Linked DNA regions of Homo sapiens: region 2 is linked to region 1. A link means that fine-mapping ties the variant in region 1 to the expression of a gene that starts in the linked region. Tissue or cell type: testis. Region 1 holds a variant in brackets; the other region holds the start of a gene. All regions are shown on one strand. Distances are from middle to middle.

Evidence for each region. PIP is the estimated chance that this variant, and not a neighbour inherited with it, causes the effect.
Region 2: it holds the start of HIVEP3, and the variant in region 1 is fine-mapped to the expression of HIVEP3 in testis (GTEx, PIP 0.99).

Annotation. Positions count from the first base shown.
Region 1 is chr1:41,445,172-41,453,274 of GRCh38, forward strand. All of the region lies in intron 2 of LOC105378678 (a long non-coding RNA gene), which reads left to right. Among named protein-coding and RNA genes, the nearest start is that of EDN2, 35 kb to the right of the region's middle. RefSeq lists an enhancer at 5,903-6,462. The variant C/T (reference allele first, on the strand shown) is at 5,040.
Region 2 is chr1:41,914,083-41,922,185 of GRCh38, forward strand. It overlaps HIVEP3 (HIVEP zinc finger 3), which reads right to left and starts at 4,840. Exons shown (of 9, transcript NM_024503.5): 1 at 4,331-4,840. RefSeq lists silencers at 3,776-4,070, 4,122-4,171.

The DNA.
Region 1 (8,103 bases):
TGTGAGGATTAAATGGAATGATGCATGATTTGTGGCAGGAAAAGAGTGGCTACTTAAGGAATGATGGGTGCTTTTCTGGATGGAGTTTGGGTTCCTCTTCAGCACTGAAAACCCATCTTAGGCCCCTTGCTTAAAGATTGCTTGACAACTACTTTCTTGATTCGATGTAACTCCCTCCCTGGCGGGAGGATAAAACAGGCTCTTTAATGCTTCCCCAGGCAAGGCAGAGGTTGCAGTGAACAGAGATCGTACCACCACACTCCAGCCTGGGCAACAGAGCAAGACTCTGTCTCAAACAAACAAACAAACAAACAAAAACAAACAAACAAACCATGCTTCCTCAAGCTTCAGTTAAAAGGCCTTTCCCCCCTACTCCCCAACCATCGTGCTCACCCTGACCCCTCTAGATGGCACCACCAGGTCTGCCTGAGCATCTGGGAGAGGGAAAGTCTGTGGGCAAGATGTATCTGGAGTGGGTAAAAGGGAAACAGCAGAGCAGGCACTCCATCTGGCAGACAGGTGGGCAGATGGAGCCCCTGGGCCAGGCTGAGCAGAGGCCAGAGAGCTGAGCCCAGCTAGAGAAGGTGAGCAGGCAGTGCCCTGCCTACCTGGCTCCAAAGTCCTCATCCCTGCAAGATCTGAGTTGTGTTTGCAGCACTTCCCTGGATGGACTGCAAGTGGAGGCTGTGATCTGATCTGCCCTGTCATGGCATCACTGATGGGCAGTGCCACCCTGAGCTGGAGGGGGCTCATCCTGAACAAATGGCCTCCTGACAACAGGCCCTATGTTGGCATGGATGCCTCTGCCCTTCCCCCTTCAAGATCCCCAAATTTGAGCTTTTCCAACCAAGGCGGGTGACCTCTGAGTCCGGGGGTGAAGGAGCAGACACCTCTTGGTTCTCTGAAAAATGTCATTGGTGACAAGGGGTAGAGGGAAAGCACCAATTTGCTCTATGGCTTATCCAGATCCGGTTGCCTTCACAGGCCACAGTGCCCTCTCTCCAAGAGGACTGTTGAAGTTCCTTCTGGCTCTGACATTCAGTGGCAAAATAACAATGACCAACCTTTGGAGCACTCATCTAATTAAATCCTCCTGAGCTAGTACAAATATTATCCCCAATTTATTGACAAGGAAACTGCAGCTTAGAAAGGATAAGTAGGCCAGGTGCGGTGGCTCACACCTGTAATCACAGCACTTTGGGAGGCCGAGAGGGCGGATCACGAGGTCAGGAGATTGAGACCATCCTGGCTAACACAGTGAAACACCGTCTCTACTAAAAAATACAAAAAATTAGTCGGGCGTGGTGACGGGCACCTGTAATCCCAGCTACTGAGGAGGCTGAGGCAGGAGAATGGCATGAACCCAGGAGGCGGAGCTTGCAGTGAGCCGAGACTGCGCCACTGCACTCCAGCTTGGGTGACAGAGCAAGACTCCATCTCAAAAAAAAAAAAAAAAAGAAGGAAAAAAAGAAAGGATAAGTAAGTTGCCCAAGGTCACCCAGCTGCTTGGTGGCAAAGCCTGGATTCAAATCGGAGGTTCTCCAACTGTAGAGTCCAGCACACTTAACTCTTCTGCTATGCCATCCGTGCCCCCTTTGGACAGTGTGGAGATTAGTCAGTGCTAGTCTAGGCTGATGTTTTGCTGATGACAATGAATTCATCCTCTGTTCTGGTTTCGTGCTCTGTGGCTTTAAGAAAACTTTCTTCTCTTTCTGCTTTAGTTTCTGAAGAAACTGGCCAAGCTGGCTTCGAACCGGCAGCCAAGAGAACTCCGTGGAGTATGTCAAGCAGGATCTTGCCTAAGAACACAGATGTGCGTGTGGAGGGGAGAGCCCAGGGAGTAATTAGGGCAATATCTCGAAGGGGGAGACGTGCCTCCTCTCGGGGGAAGACCGTGAGCCCATCTGTCAACAAGCCCTCCTTGACTCCTTCTCTGGGCTGGGCACTGTGGGGGGTAGAGGGATGCAGGAGCACAGAGCTCCCTCCCAGGTCTGAATGCTCTGACATGAAGACACCCCTTCTGCTCTCCTTCCCCAGAAGCCCCAACCCCCATACCCTAGAGCTCAAATCCTGTGAGGAGAGATAAGATTTATACATGTGAAAGTGAAGGAACAAAGGGATGATTTGCTCCAAGTGTGTGGTCTATTGGCTCTTTAATAAGCATTGATTGAGCTTTTTCAGAACCAGGACAGGGCTAGGCAAGGGAGACCCAGAGATGGAAGGGGCTGAGTCTCCCCTCTTAGCACAGGCCAGATGGAGGACAGGCTTGTTAGCCAATCAGGGCCAAAGAGAGGAAAGAAGCTTAGAAGCTTCACAGTAGCACGCAATAGGTGCCCAAGCACTTGCTTAAATACTTACTGTGGATTTTTAAATTTTTAATGTTCTTAAAAATGGAGATGGGGTCTACACTATGTTGCCCTGGCTGGTGTCAAACTCCTGGGCTCAAGCGATCCTCCTGCCTTAGCCTCTCAAGTAACTGGGACCACAGGCATGAGCCTACACCCAGTTGGATTTCCTTATTTAATCCTCATAAAATTCTATGAGGTGGGGGCCATTACTGCTCCCATTTTATGCATGAGGCAGCTGAGGGTTTGTAACTTGTCTAAGACCCTGCAGCTTGTAAGAGATGGAGGCAGGATAGGAACCCAGGAAACATGGCTTTGAAGGCTAAGTCTTCGAGTGCTGGACTCTGGAGAGGGCAGACCTCAGCCCAGGGGCCAAGGACGGCAATTGGAAGAGAGAATGTTCGGGCTGGTCTCAAGGAGGAGTTTATCAAGGAGGGATGAGGGCCAGAGCCATCTGGGCAGGGAGTGTCTGGAGGCATGAAGCAAGGAGCATGTTTGGCAATGGGGCATTGCCAGAGGGGATGGGTGTTTATTGTGTGGGTAGTGTGGTGCTGAGACAGTAAGTGGGGATGGATGAGGAAGGGCCCCAAGTGCTTTGTGACTTCGTCCTGGAGATAGTGGAGGATGCTTGAAGGGATGGTGGGTGGGTGCTCTGTCGACCCAGGGGAAGATGGCTGTGTGGTCAGGAACGGAGGTGTCGAGGAGGATATGGGCTTGGGCTGGCTAGAACATCCAAGAAAGAGAGAGGAGGGGAAGTGGTGGGAGCAAAGGGGGGGAGGGGGAGGTCCCCAGTCTGGATAGGGGGAGGCATGTGGAAAGGGTTAGGGCCAAGGAGCGCTGGAAAAGTGGGTGGAGTCCAATCATGAGGCCCTTAAATTCCACACTAAGAGTCTGCTCCTGGGCCATCAGCACAGGCTGTATGGACAGGGAAGCCTGGTCAGCTGGGGCTCTGCGGTGCTATGGGCCAGGCACAGTGTGGTTGTAGAGTAAGCAAGACAGACATGGCCCCTGGCCTTCATGGAATTTGCAGTCCAGGAGCCGAGACAGACATGAATCAAGCAGCCTCAGGCACCCATGGCTGACTGCAAACAACCTGGCAGCTGATGGAAAACTCAGGGGCCCCAGGGGAGTGTGAGCTGGTAGGAAGTGCAGAAGCAACTCTAGGCTGCATCTCTTGGGGATGGGGAGAGGGGGAAGGAAAAGCATTCCAGGCAGAGGAACCAGCAAGCGCACAGCCTCAGAAGCAGCAAGGAATGGAGGCATTGAAAGAAAAGCAAAAAGGCCAGGGAGGCTGGAAGGCAGAGAGCTAGGGGGAGGGAGATGCTGAAGATTTGGGGGTTTGACTGGAGAAGAGTTGGGAGATGGTGAAGGGTTTTAAGCAGGGAAATGACCAAAAGATCTGTGTTGTAGAAAGATCCCTGGCTGCTGTAAGCAGAATGGAATGAGGGGGAAGTATGGCTTTGAGGGACCAGTTAGGCAGCTGCTGCAGACTCTCAGGAGCAGCTGGAGAGCCCCGGCTCAGGTCACAGTGAGGGAGTCAGAAGCAGGTGGGTGGCCCACACAGTGCAGGTGCTTGGAAGATGGATTCAGCAGGACTTGGTGACTGGCTGGGGAGGCGGGTGAGAAAGAAGAAGGGGTGGATGGAGGGGCTATCTACGGAGATGGGGGGGTCGGGAGGGAGGGGGTGGTCTTGAGAGAAAGAATCATGAGACAGTTCTAGCCAAGCTTGGATTGAGGTGCCTGAGAGACACCTGAGTGCAGGCAGCTGGGTGCCCAGGCCTGGGGCTCAGGAGGCGGGTGTGGGATGATCTAGGAATTATGAGCTAGAGATGGAAAGTCAGCTATGGGGGAGGCTAGGGAGAGAACATGGGAAGAGAAGAGGGCCCAGGACACAACGTCAATGACTGTTGGAAGAAGAGGCACCAAGGACACCGAGAAGCTGCTGGCGGAGCAGTGGGGGAATATCAAGTCAGAGAATCCAGAAGGCCCTTGGAGGGTGTGGTCTGCAGGTGTGAGGAGGCCGAAAGCCCAGGCAGGTTGACGACTGTAAAACGCCGGTTGGATTTAGCAAAATGGAGGTCCGGGGCCTTGAGCAGGAGCAGGTTGAGTAGAGGGTGGGGAGGGGCAGAGACAGCCTCGTGGGAGGTGAAGCCTAGGAGATGGGACTTGGAGATAACAGGTTACTGCCAGGAACTGGGGCTGAAGGAGGAGGAAAGGAATGGGACCGAGTTCAATTGAAGAGGATAGACAGGCTTGATTTGTTTGCTTGTTGGTTTTTAGGGTGGGAGGAACTGGGCATGTTTAAGAAGAGGGAGCCAGTCAGGAGAGAGAGGTTCAGTGTCTTTCCCAGAATAGACCCTTGAGGCTAAGAACAACAACAAAAAATCCAGTAGAGCCCCAGGAGGAAAGGAATTTGGCTTTTTAGCTGAGTAGTGAAAAGGCAAGCTGGCAATTGCCCTTTGGCTCTGCCAGGGAAGGTCAGAGAAAGGCCTCCCCAGTGATGGAGAGGGGAAGGAAGTGAGGGGGAGAAAAAACAGTGGAGAGATAAACAAGCCTTGGCTGGAAGGAGGAGAGAGAAGCCCCCTCTGAAGGTACCTAGGGGTATTAAAAGGGGGAAGTTAACAGTGAGAACAAATAATAAAGATTCTTATATGTAGCCAAGGTTTGCTCTTTGTGTACTCTGAGACTACCATA[C/T]GTAAAGGCTGGTGTTTGAACTTGGCTCCTAGCAGTGGCAGCTTGTTAGGGAAGAGTTCTGGCTCGGGAGGCAGGAGATCAGGCTTCTGGTCTAGCTCTGCCATTAACCGGCTCTGGAGCCTGGGCCGCAGTGTCCCATATTTCAGTTGGGCTGGAGGTGAGTGTTTCTAATACTTTCATGGGGTTTTGTGAGTTGGCAACCTCGTTACATGGCTGGTGGCTTGATGCTCCAGAAAGTGTGTTTGCTGCACGGGACTGCATGAGGTAATAATAGTGTTGATAGTGATAATAATAGCTAAAGTGTACCGAGTGGCATCTCTGTGATCTGCACTGTGCCAAGAGGTTTGACTCCTGAGGAGGGATCATACTCCCCATTTTACATCATGGAGATGCTGAATGCCAGGTTGAAGGGTCTGAATGGGAGTATAAGGAAGGTTTGGAAAGAAGGGTCGGCAAACCGATAGCAGGATCCACACAAGACGGGTGGGACAATGCTGGAGTCCAGCAAAGAAGGAAGGCAAGCAATAAACCCAGAGGCAATCTGTGGATGAGTCTGCATGGGGGAAGAGGCAGAAGGACTGGCCTGAGGGAGGCATCAGCGTCTCCAAGTCTAAGCATGGGCTGCCCACTTCCTTGGAAAGGGGCAGAAAATCTAAGCAAGGCCAGCTCTGAGCCTGTCAGAGAGTTGGGTTGGGACACGCCCGGGGGTATTTGGCTCTGGGATTTTGTTGTCTGTTTACTAACCGCTCTCCTGCCTCTGGCTGCAGCGGTGAGCTTGCGAAAGTCTTGGCCTCACTGTGTCTCTGTCTCACCGTTGCTGGAGGAGCCCAGTGGGTTACCTGGCCTCCCCTCCCTCTGCCGGGTCTCAGTTCCCTGCCACCTGCCCTGCAGGGCAGGTGGCCACTCGGACCCCAGTGGAGACTTGTCCCAGCCTCAGCCTCCCTGCAGCCCCTTCATGCCACATCTGTGTGTTCCCTGCCACCACCCTTCTGTGCTGTGCCTCAGGGAGGCCCCAGCCTCACTCCACATTTCCACTGGTTTTCTTTCCAAGCAAGTTCCCATCTATTATCCAATTTAATGCTCCTCCAACCTTGTGAGATCATCAGCTGAGCCATAAGCCCCTGAATCTGGGTCCCACAGCTGGTTGTAAAGCTGGACCAGAGGCAAGGCTCCTCCTGGTTAAGTGCCATATTGGAAAAAGGCCTGAGTGACAGGACTCTGGATTCCATTTCTGGCTCTGACATTATTCCCTGTGTGACCCTGAATAAGCTCTTGCTCTCCTGTGCGGAAAGGAATGGGGTGGACGAGGTGACCTTTACTGTCTTCCCAACTCTGAAAGTCTTGGAAAGATTGAGCCGAATCCTTTAGTCAGCAAACATGCCTTGTCCCTTCCAGTGAGGCCAGCCTGGGCTGGAGCTGGAACCACTGTAGCAGGCCTGCCTTCTGGGTAGGGGTAACCCTAGCAAAAGGCCTGGTCCACAGATAAAAGGCCTGGCCACAGTCAAAGGGGCAGCATACAAAAGGCCTCTGAAGGCCTGGCGTGGTGGCTCACACCTGTAATCCCAGCACTTTGGGAGGCTGAGGTGGGTGGATCACAAGGTCAAGAGATCAAGACCATCCTGGCCAACCTGGTGAAACCCCATCTCTACTTAAAATACAAACAATTAGCTGGGCGTGGTGGCTGGGCCTGTAGTCCCAGATACTCAGGAGGCTGAGGCAGGAGAATCGCTTGAACCTGGTGGGTGGAGGTTGCAGTCAGCCGAGATCCATGCCACTGCACTCCAGCTTGGGGACAGAGCGAGACTCCGTCTCAAAAAACAAACAAAAAACCAAAAGGCCTCTGAAAATCATCACAGAGACTGCCAAGCCCTTCTCATGGCCTCTTTCTGTCCCCCTAAATTCTCTCACACCCACCCTGTCCCCAGCCTCTCTTTCACCCCCAACCACACCATCACATAAAACCACTCTCCACCCCAAGCCTGGACGTGCTTCTGCTTACATGATGCCATTACTGTTGGCCAGAAACTCACTTAATCCTCGCTACAGCCACCCTATGCCATGAACATTATTATCCTCATTTTACAGACGAGGAACCAAGGCCTAGAGAAGCTAAGTGACTCATCCAGGTGTTCCCAGTGGGAAGTTGCAGTGCAGGATGTGGTCCCAGAGTGCAGGGTCCCAGTGCCTGAGGTCAAACCCGAACTGTCCTGCTCACCAACTGTGTGGCCTTGAGCAGAGGCCCCCTCACCCTCTCTTGAGTTTTAGCTTCCTTCCTCATAGAACAGATCTCCCCATTTCTACCTTTGGGTGGCTGTGAACAGACCCATGTCTGTCACCATCTGTGTACTCTCGCAAATCGCTCACCCTCTCTGAACTTAGAGGTTTTGTCTAGAAATGGGGAAAGCAACACCCACTTCACAGGGTTGGTGTGGGGATTATGACAGAGTATTGAGAAAGAGCTAGTGCTCAATAAACCCCAATCTCTGAAGCTGCCTAATTGTAAAGCGAATAGGGCCCTGTGGTTGGACAGACAGATTGCTTCTGATTATCCGCCATATTGTAAATATGGCTGCAGGGAACATCTTTTTGGCTTTCTTGGATTCATTCCTATGGATAAAGTCCTGGGGATTGATTGCGGCCCAGGTCAAAGGTCATGAACACTTATTCAAGTTGGCAGCTTTTTGTTATGGAGCAGGATTCCGGAGTCAGATAGTCCTGCGGGTGAATCCGCATTGGCCTATTTCCTAGTCACTAGCCTTGGGTAAGTGACTCCACCTCGCTAAGCCTCTGATTTCTTATCTGTAAACCAGGGTAATAACATTAACTGTATTAAGGGATTGTTGCCTGACATGAAGTACTCATAAACCCTACCTTTTATTACGGTCCTGACTTGCTCTGATACCCATCCTTAGTTAATCAATACGGAAGCCGAGGTCGAGTGAGGGGAGTAGTCTCCTACCAAGGTCACAGTCTGTGTGCAGCTGGTAACCCAGATCTATCTGGGGCTAGTTTCAGCATCTTCTTTGCAAACCCTGTCAGACTCAAGCCAGGGCTGGAATTGATA
Region 2 (8,103 bases), 470 kb after region 1:
CCTGGCATTTCAAAAACACTTAGTAATGAGGAGGGGAGACCCATCAGTCATGTACTCACCACTTCCATTGTTGTCCTGCCTCCCAAGCACATATTTCCAACTGTGAAACCTCCCAACAGGGCAGTCCTCTGGATAGTGTGGTTCAGTCACTTCCCACCACCATGCCTCACCTCCTCTGCCTTCCAAGCCCTCTGGGACTTCAGGGAATACCTTTTCTCCATCATATTACAATTAGATACAGGGAACCTTTGGAGAGTTCTGAGTATTTGTGATTATATTCAATAACCTGTTACTGACAGTTTCTTTTAGTTAAAGAATTTTTTCAAGTAAGTTACCAAAACAATGAATGTATGTACATCTAGAAACTGAGAAATACTCTTCCATGACTTTTAGTTAGGTCCTCACGTTTTCCACATATGTATTGAATTTTTAAAATACTATTTTAAAAGGGTCTACATTTATTTTCCTCTACTTTTGTTTTTCCTCTTGCCTTTGTTTTGGAGCAAATTTTAACTGAACACATTGTCAGAGGGTCAGGCCAAGTTTGGCACTGCTCGTGTATCTCAGCCACCTTCCAGTTTTCAGCACGATGTCTGAACTGAAAAAACACCATTGCTTACCATAAGGGTGTGGCCATGACAGCTTGAACAACATCCGGGTAGTGGTAAGTCTACATTTGCTACACAGATGTAAGAAACAGATAGCAGTAGGGTCTACCTCTCCTGCTCCATCTTTTCCATCACCAGGTCTCTTCCAACTCCAGAATTAAAGTCATCAAGTTGGAACAACTCTAAGTGTGTTTCCTGATCATAACAAGACAGGTTGAGGTTCATGAATATTTTCTTTAGTATTAAATGTTAGAACATAACCACTAATAATAACAGTAGCATAGTAGTTCCCTGATAAATTTTGACAAAAGATCATAAAGTTCTCAATTTCAACAGCAGGGCTTTATAGTTGTAATATAATTTTGACCAGTAAGCCACCGGCTATCCAGAAACCTCACAGGTGCCATTATCATGGATAGTTGCAGTTTTTTCTCTAAGAATCATGCAAAAAAAAAAAATCTTTTGGGGATACTTCAGAACTCTGTCTTTTTAAATTGGATGAACAAAATATAATTTTAACTTCTATGGATACATGTGGGTCATTGTGAGCATCAGTTACTATGTTATAAAACAGAGTACCAAAGATCCATCAAAATACATAAAATTTCACTGAATTGCTTACATTAAATGCTCATATCAGCTTTAGAATTCCATGCCTTGAATTCTTGTGCCTTTTAAATTTTTTTTTAGTTTTTCTGTTTTTTACTCTTACTTCTTACTGATACTTGATAAAAGAGCTTTAATAATCCTTGCACAGTACAGTATCAGTTGCTTCCAATTTGCTAGGTGCATTTGACAAACTAATAACCAAGCCTCTTAAAACTTGAAGTAAATGCAGAGGCCTGAAAGAGGGTATAAAATTTCCTCCAATGATCAAAATTCATAAACTGTAGCTCATGGACTTATGACCTTTCTCTTGATTTGCCATCTAGGTCCCAACTGGATAAGTGAAATTATGTAAATGTGAGTTCCAGATTGTTGTGGTATTATCCTAATACCTATCAACTACATAGCATGTTACTAAACGTATCTCATTTTTCTTCTCAAGATAGTTCAGTGGTCTTGGTAAGGTTATGATGGTTACACCTACTTTACAGATAAGGAAGAAAATTGGTCACGGGCTTTGGCCAAGTCTGACCCAGAATGCTAGTGCTGCCTGTTGATACAGCCAGTGTTTTCCAGCCCTGCCCGCCTAGTGCATCTGCAGATTTGTAAATACACTTTGACTCCACAGGAAACAGGATGGAGAACAGCATGTCAGGGACTCCTTGATGGGCAGGATGGAGGGCAAAAAAGAGCCTTAAAGACATTAGGGAATTCACAGAGTAGGGAGTGAGAGACAAGTTAAATGCTATCCAGTTGTCACACAGCTTTCTTAATGTTATCTTTCATCAAATCATGTCCTAGAACCTGCCAGGACTTCAGACTAAATGCATCTTCTTCTTGCCTGTACCTTTCACACACTAAATGTCTCAACAGCTCACTTGGCAAGGACCCAAAGGCAGCACACACTTCTCCACTCCAAGGAGGGTGGCTGCCACTAAACACAATGGGCGGAGACAGCTCAACAATAGTGCCAGTTGAGCACATCTTGATCCACTGCCACAGAGTTCACAGTAGTAGTTGGCCCTCAAAGCAAACCCACTGGGGTGTTGAGGGCAAAAAAACAATCTTAGCCTTAAGGGGCCAGACTTTGCCATCAAATTAACAAATCTGCCCAACAGCCCCAGGCTGAGGCGCTCAGGGGTGTGACAGGAGGGCCCCTGTTAACAATTCTGTATCCTGTGGGTGCCTTAACTAGATGGAGTGGAGAGGAAGCAGAGAGCTAAGTGTCACACCACCCTCTCCTCCTGCCTGCAGGTGTCTTAGTTGGACAGCTGTCCACCTTCCTTGCAAAAAACTCCCACAATCTTTAAATGCAACTATGTAAAGGGCCTCCAGCCTCTGCAAGCCATCACAACTTTAAAGAGCATATGTCAAACAGCTCAGACGGCATCTGAGGTCTATTCTTCAGCCCCACAGTATAGCCCAACCCCAGAGCACAAGTGACACCCTAGTGGACAGGAACTCCTCCCTACACTGGCTGCTCAGCAGGACCATGAAGAACAGCTGGGACCTGGCCTATTACCTTGGCTTCAGGATTCATTTTCTGCCTGGAATTGGGAAACTGGAGGCCCTGCAGGGGTCCTTCTCCTGGGTCCAACTGTCTCCAGGGTGCAAGAGGGGTGAAATTACCAAATGAAAGTTCAGATAAGCAATTACTGGCTGAAAGAGACACAGGAGGGTCTTCAGATCAACACTGACCCAGAGCTAATACCACACTGTCCTCAGAGGGACACACGATCACTGACCTGTATTCTTCACATTTAAGTTGCTAGAATTATTCCTCCTTGCCCCCACTCTCTCCCTGCCCCCAGCATACACATAATTACATAAAGACGTCTTAAACAACTGTAGCACCCAACTTCTTCAGTCTGGGGGAGAGCCAGGAGATGGTGGGGAGCTGTTTGGGCACACGTCTGATCATTACATAATCACACAAACATGGGCTGGAGAACACTGCCATGCAGATCAGTTCAGCAAACACCTCATTCTCCCTCTTTCCTCTTCCCTCCCCCCGTAACACCCAAAATGCACACCAGAGTTAACAAAACCGAAGCACTCCAGGTAGCCAGTGGGCACCTGGCTGCTGTGGTTACAATGCCAAGGGCTACCAGAAACGTCAGCGTATACCAGAAAGAGGGCCAGGGTGCTGCTCACCCAGCGACCAGATCTGCAGACCCTCTTCCTGCAACCACTGCCCCCGAAGTTCAAGGAAGGGCCTAGCCACAGAAATATTCCTGACCTGCAACAGAAACCAAACCAGCTACGTTAAAGGAAACCAATGCCGAGCCTCCAAGTTCCTCTGCACCACTGCCACACTCAGGAGTCCTCAGCAGCCTGGACAATATCATTAGGGACCATTCGGCACCATCAGTGTTTCCATTTAAAAGATAGTAAAATGTGGGGCATAACTTGGAGGGGACACTCTCTCTGCTAGCAGGGAGGCAAGAATCCCCTATAGAATAGGAGTTTGGTTTGGGTTTGGTTGGGTCAGGTTGGGGGTTGGGAAATGATTTTGCTTTAGGAATATTTTCAGGGGGCTAGGATTAAGGGGGAAAAAGAAAGCTATCCCCTCTGTCTCAGCAGCCAGCATCATACGAATCTCACTCTCAACCAAGCAGGCTACTGCAGTCCGCCTAAACAATCCGGAGCAGCAGCCAAGGCAGCACAAGAAAACGCCGGTGCCACGGAACGCGATGCCTAAGCCCCCCAGCCGAGGCTCCTATGGAGCCGGCCGCCAGTGCGCGGGTGCAGAGCCCAGCAGAGCCTGCTGCAAGCAGCGCTGGAGCGCACGGCGCGCATAGGGTTACAGCCCCGCCGCCGCCGCCGCCGCCGCCGCCTGTGATTGACGCGCGGGGGTCACTTGAGGCTCGCGCCGCTCCCCAGCACCAGGCCGAGCAGCGCGCTCAGCCCACCGGGGGCACTGGCCGCCACGCGCAGCCCACCCGGCCGGCCCCTGCGTCTCGGCAGCCGGACACCTTGCCTAAGAAAGGCATACACAAAATGGAATCGCAGCTCGCTATTCTGCTTCGCGGTGCGGCCTCAGGCAAAAACACAATCACAAGGTAAAATACAGCGCAAGGAATCCATCCGCCGAATAAAAACCCAGAGTCCCCTACCTTCGGCCTTGGGATGGCAAACTGGTCCTGTGTTCTCTGACCCACGGATCCAGCCCCTTCTTCATGAATTATTCCGGCCAGGCAGGATTTTGTGCATTTTTTTCATGAACACCTGTTTCAAGTAAGGGGTAAAGACCTTATTGAAAGAATTGTCCTTAAAAAATAACCTGTGCATACGTATGTCCATCCAGGCATGCATGCGTGTTTGTATACACACATATGCACACGGAATAGCCATGTACATTGAAGCACCAAACTAGGCAGCTGGATAATGGGAGAGTCGGCTGGTTGTGAGCATGCTCGCGCCGGGAACAGATCCACCCTCTGTTATTCCTCTGAATAAATATAAATCACGATCAGAAACCCAAACAGAAGCATCCCTCTTGAATTCGTGCTGCTGAAAAACACGGAATAAATTCAGCCTGCAGACACAGAATCTAATCAGCAGCTGTTTTCTGAATCCAGAGCCAACCCATGCCTCGCTTGTCTTTTCCACTAGGAGTCCAGACCTTTTTTGAAAGGGGGTTTAACCTTTTAAAGACACAGTACACCAATTATCACTTCGGAATAGCTGTCACTCCCAGCGCAGGAAGCCAGTCCCATGCCTAAAGGCACAGTAGGCTTGCACACAGTGATAAGGATTTCATTTATTGGTGCTTTTTAAAAAACAACATATATGTATAATATATGTGCATATATATGCACATATATATGCACACATATTATATATATATACGTGGAGAGAAAAAATGCAAATGCAAGTCATAAATATTTATTGCACTGATGAGCTTCTCAGTACTAATTGGCACGTTATGTAAACACTATGATCCTTCACTTCTGAACACCCATGTTCACGGGTCAGACGAGACAGGGCACTCTTGTCAGCAAGCGTGTCACACCTCACCAGCCTCTGGCTGCAGATCAGGGGCCGGGGAGCCTCAACAGTGCCTGAAGGGAGTGGGGTCTCTGCACCTGAGAGCTCAACACGGGCACTCCTTGCCCTGCCCTGCCTTGCTCTGCAGTCTCAGGGTCCATGTCCACAAATCAAAGAATAGTTCTGGCACTATTTCTAAAGTCGAACATAATCCAGAGCCACATCGCATTCCAAGACATACTTTCTTTCAACCAGAATCAGGAATCAGAACTACCACCTGAACCTTAGTTAGAGTCTTTACGATTCAGACTTAGGCCCTTCTTCAAGATTTTGTTATTGAGTTCTGTTGTTTTGTTTTTCACTTTTCTTTTAAGGGTCAGCATGGAGGTATGGAGGTAGAAAAACAGGGTAGGGGGAGAGACAACCTCCAGCCTAAATTTTTTTGAAAAAAATTATTCTTCGAGTACTTCAGCCACCCAGATGGTGTTTACTGCAGTTTTGTTCTGGCTTTTAAAGAGGTAGCGCTGAGAAGAAACAAGAGTCCTAACCTTGCTCACGTGTGTTAAGAAGGCAAATGTCTTTGACAGTTTCTTTTTCACCCCAGCCCCAGAGCTCCAGCATGGCGCTGTCTGCTCCTCCGCTGGTTCCCGCCTAAGAGCAGCGGCAGTGGCTCACCTCGGGAGCTACAGGGGCGCTCCTACAGCCGCTCCAGCATCACAGCCCATTCCCTCCCTTGCCTAGTCCTGCCAGGCAAACCGTGAAAACAAGTGCACTGTCACCCTCCCACCTCATCACAGGCGCTCCTGTGTGGACCCCTCCCAGCGACACACACACACTCTCTTCCTTCCCCTCTTCCAGGGCCCTTTGGCAGAAAATTATCATATTTCATGTGTCATCGCCCAAGCAAGCTGGGTCCATCACTGATTGGCTGGGCCCTGGCAGCCGGAAATGTCACCAGCCACACAGCGTGGAGCTGGCTCTCCCGCGGCCACCACAGACCTGAGCCCAGGAGGCTCTGTGACAAGGCACAGACCTACCACAGAGAGCCTGTCACTCTCTCCCTGGTCCAGCCCCTGCCCCCTGCTTCTCCATCTACCCAGCCCCCCGGGGAATAGGGGCTGCGAGGGGATGGTGAAGGAGTCTCAGTGACATTCCTATTTTCCCAGCATGTTTGAGAAGAAACTAAAGATGTCTCCAATCAGGTTTATAAATTTGGAGAACTTGTTTTTGACAAAAACATTCTGTCTTCACACTAAAAAAAAATCAGTAAGACTGGGTGAAAACAAGATGGTTTTTTTTTTTTTGTTTTGTTTTTTACCCCAGGAGAGTTTACTAGATGCTGCTGTTTATTTCCCATCTAACATCTCAGGCACCAAGGTATAATCATGTCACAGGGCTGTCCGATAATTCAGAAGGTGATTCGAGTCCATCCTCTTACCTTTAAAGAGAACAGCTCCAGAAAATGAGGCTTTGTAACTTGGCTTTGCAATGTATCATGATGCCACACAACTTTTTAAGGGTTAAATGATCTTTGTAGTGACCAACATGAATCACTTCAGCTGTAATTTAATCTTAGTCCCTCCTGCTGTATCTTCAGCAGGCTTAGTGTGACTCACCATTTAAGTCTCACCTTATTCTGTTCTCCTGAGTAAACTAAACTCTATCTCTCTGTCCTTTTCAGTAAAAGTTTTTCTCAACCCTTTAATTATGCTGCTTTAAAGAAAAAGCCTCCCAGAGTTACATGAGTCTGGAAGGTCATTTGGTCCATCTATCCATATGATGTGTCAGAACTCTCCACTATTTCCATACGGGGGCTTTTGGTTTGGGGAATGGTAAATTCACTGGCAATGCTGGGAACCAGGGAAAGATGCCATCAATAAAGCAGACATTTTGAATAATATGGGAAGATACAAAGTAGATGGGACATGGGAGGAAAAACTAATTAGTACTGATAAACTCATGATTCTGCAAAGACCCTGATATGGTTTGGCTGTGTCCCCACCCAAATCTCATCTTGAATTGTAGTTCCCATAATCCCCACATGTCATGGGAAGGACCTGGTGGGAGGTAATTGAATCATGGAGGCAGGTTTTTCTCATGCTGTTCTTGTGATAGTGAATAAGTCTCATGAGATCTGATGGTTTTATAAAGGGTAGTTCCCTTGCACACGCTCTCTTGCCTGCCACCATGTAAGATGTGCCTCTGCTCCTCCTTCACCTCTGCCATGATTGTGTGGCTTCTCCAGCCATGTGGAACTGTGAGTCCATTAAACCTCTTTTTCTTTATAAATTGCCTGGTCTCAGGTATGTCTTTATTAGCAGTGTGAGAACCGACTAATACAGACCCCTAAGAAGTAACTGTACAGGTTTCCAGAAAACAGTCTTGGAAAATCCCAAACTCAGAGAATCAGGATTGGAGGAGAATCATAGGCAGCAGTTTAAAGGCAAATTAAGGGACATCAGGAACATGGTCAGTTTCTCCACACAGAATGGCTGGACACAGAAATAGGTCCACAGCTTCTTTGGAAAGTGAGAGGTTTGTTCCAAATATAATAGAAGCCAAAGGTTGAATAGGGGCAGGATATCAGCTCCTTTTGAAATGCCACTGCTCTTCCCCAAAAAGTGCGCACACACACACACCACACACACACACACCACATGCACACAAAAGAGATTTAAAAAATCAGATAAAATATAAGATATAACAGAGAGATCCAGAATATCCAATCAATATTAGCCTAATAGGAGTTCCAGATGGAGGCATCATTAATGAAGAAGAAATCAATAATCAAGGAAATAACAGAAGAACATTTCCTTAACCTGAAGAAAGTCTTTAGGCCTTAGATCAAATGCTGTGCTAGGCAGCAGGACTACTGAAAGAATACACACTTCCAGATGTA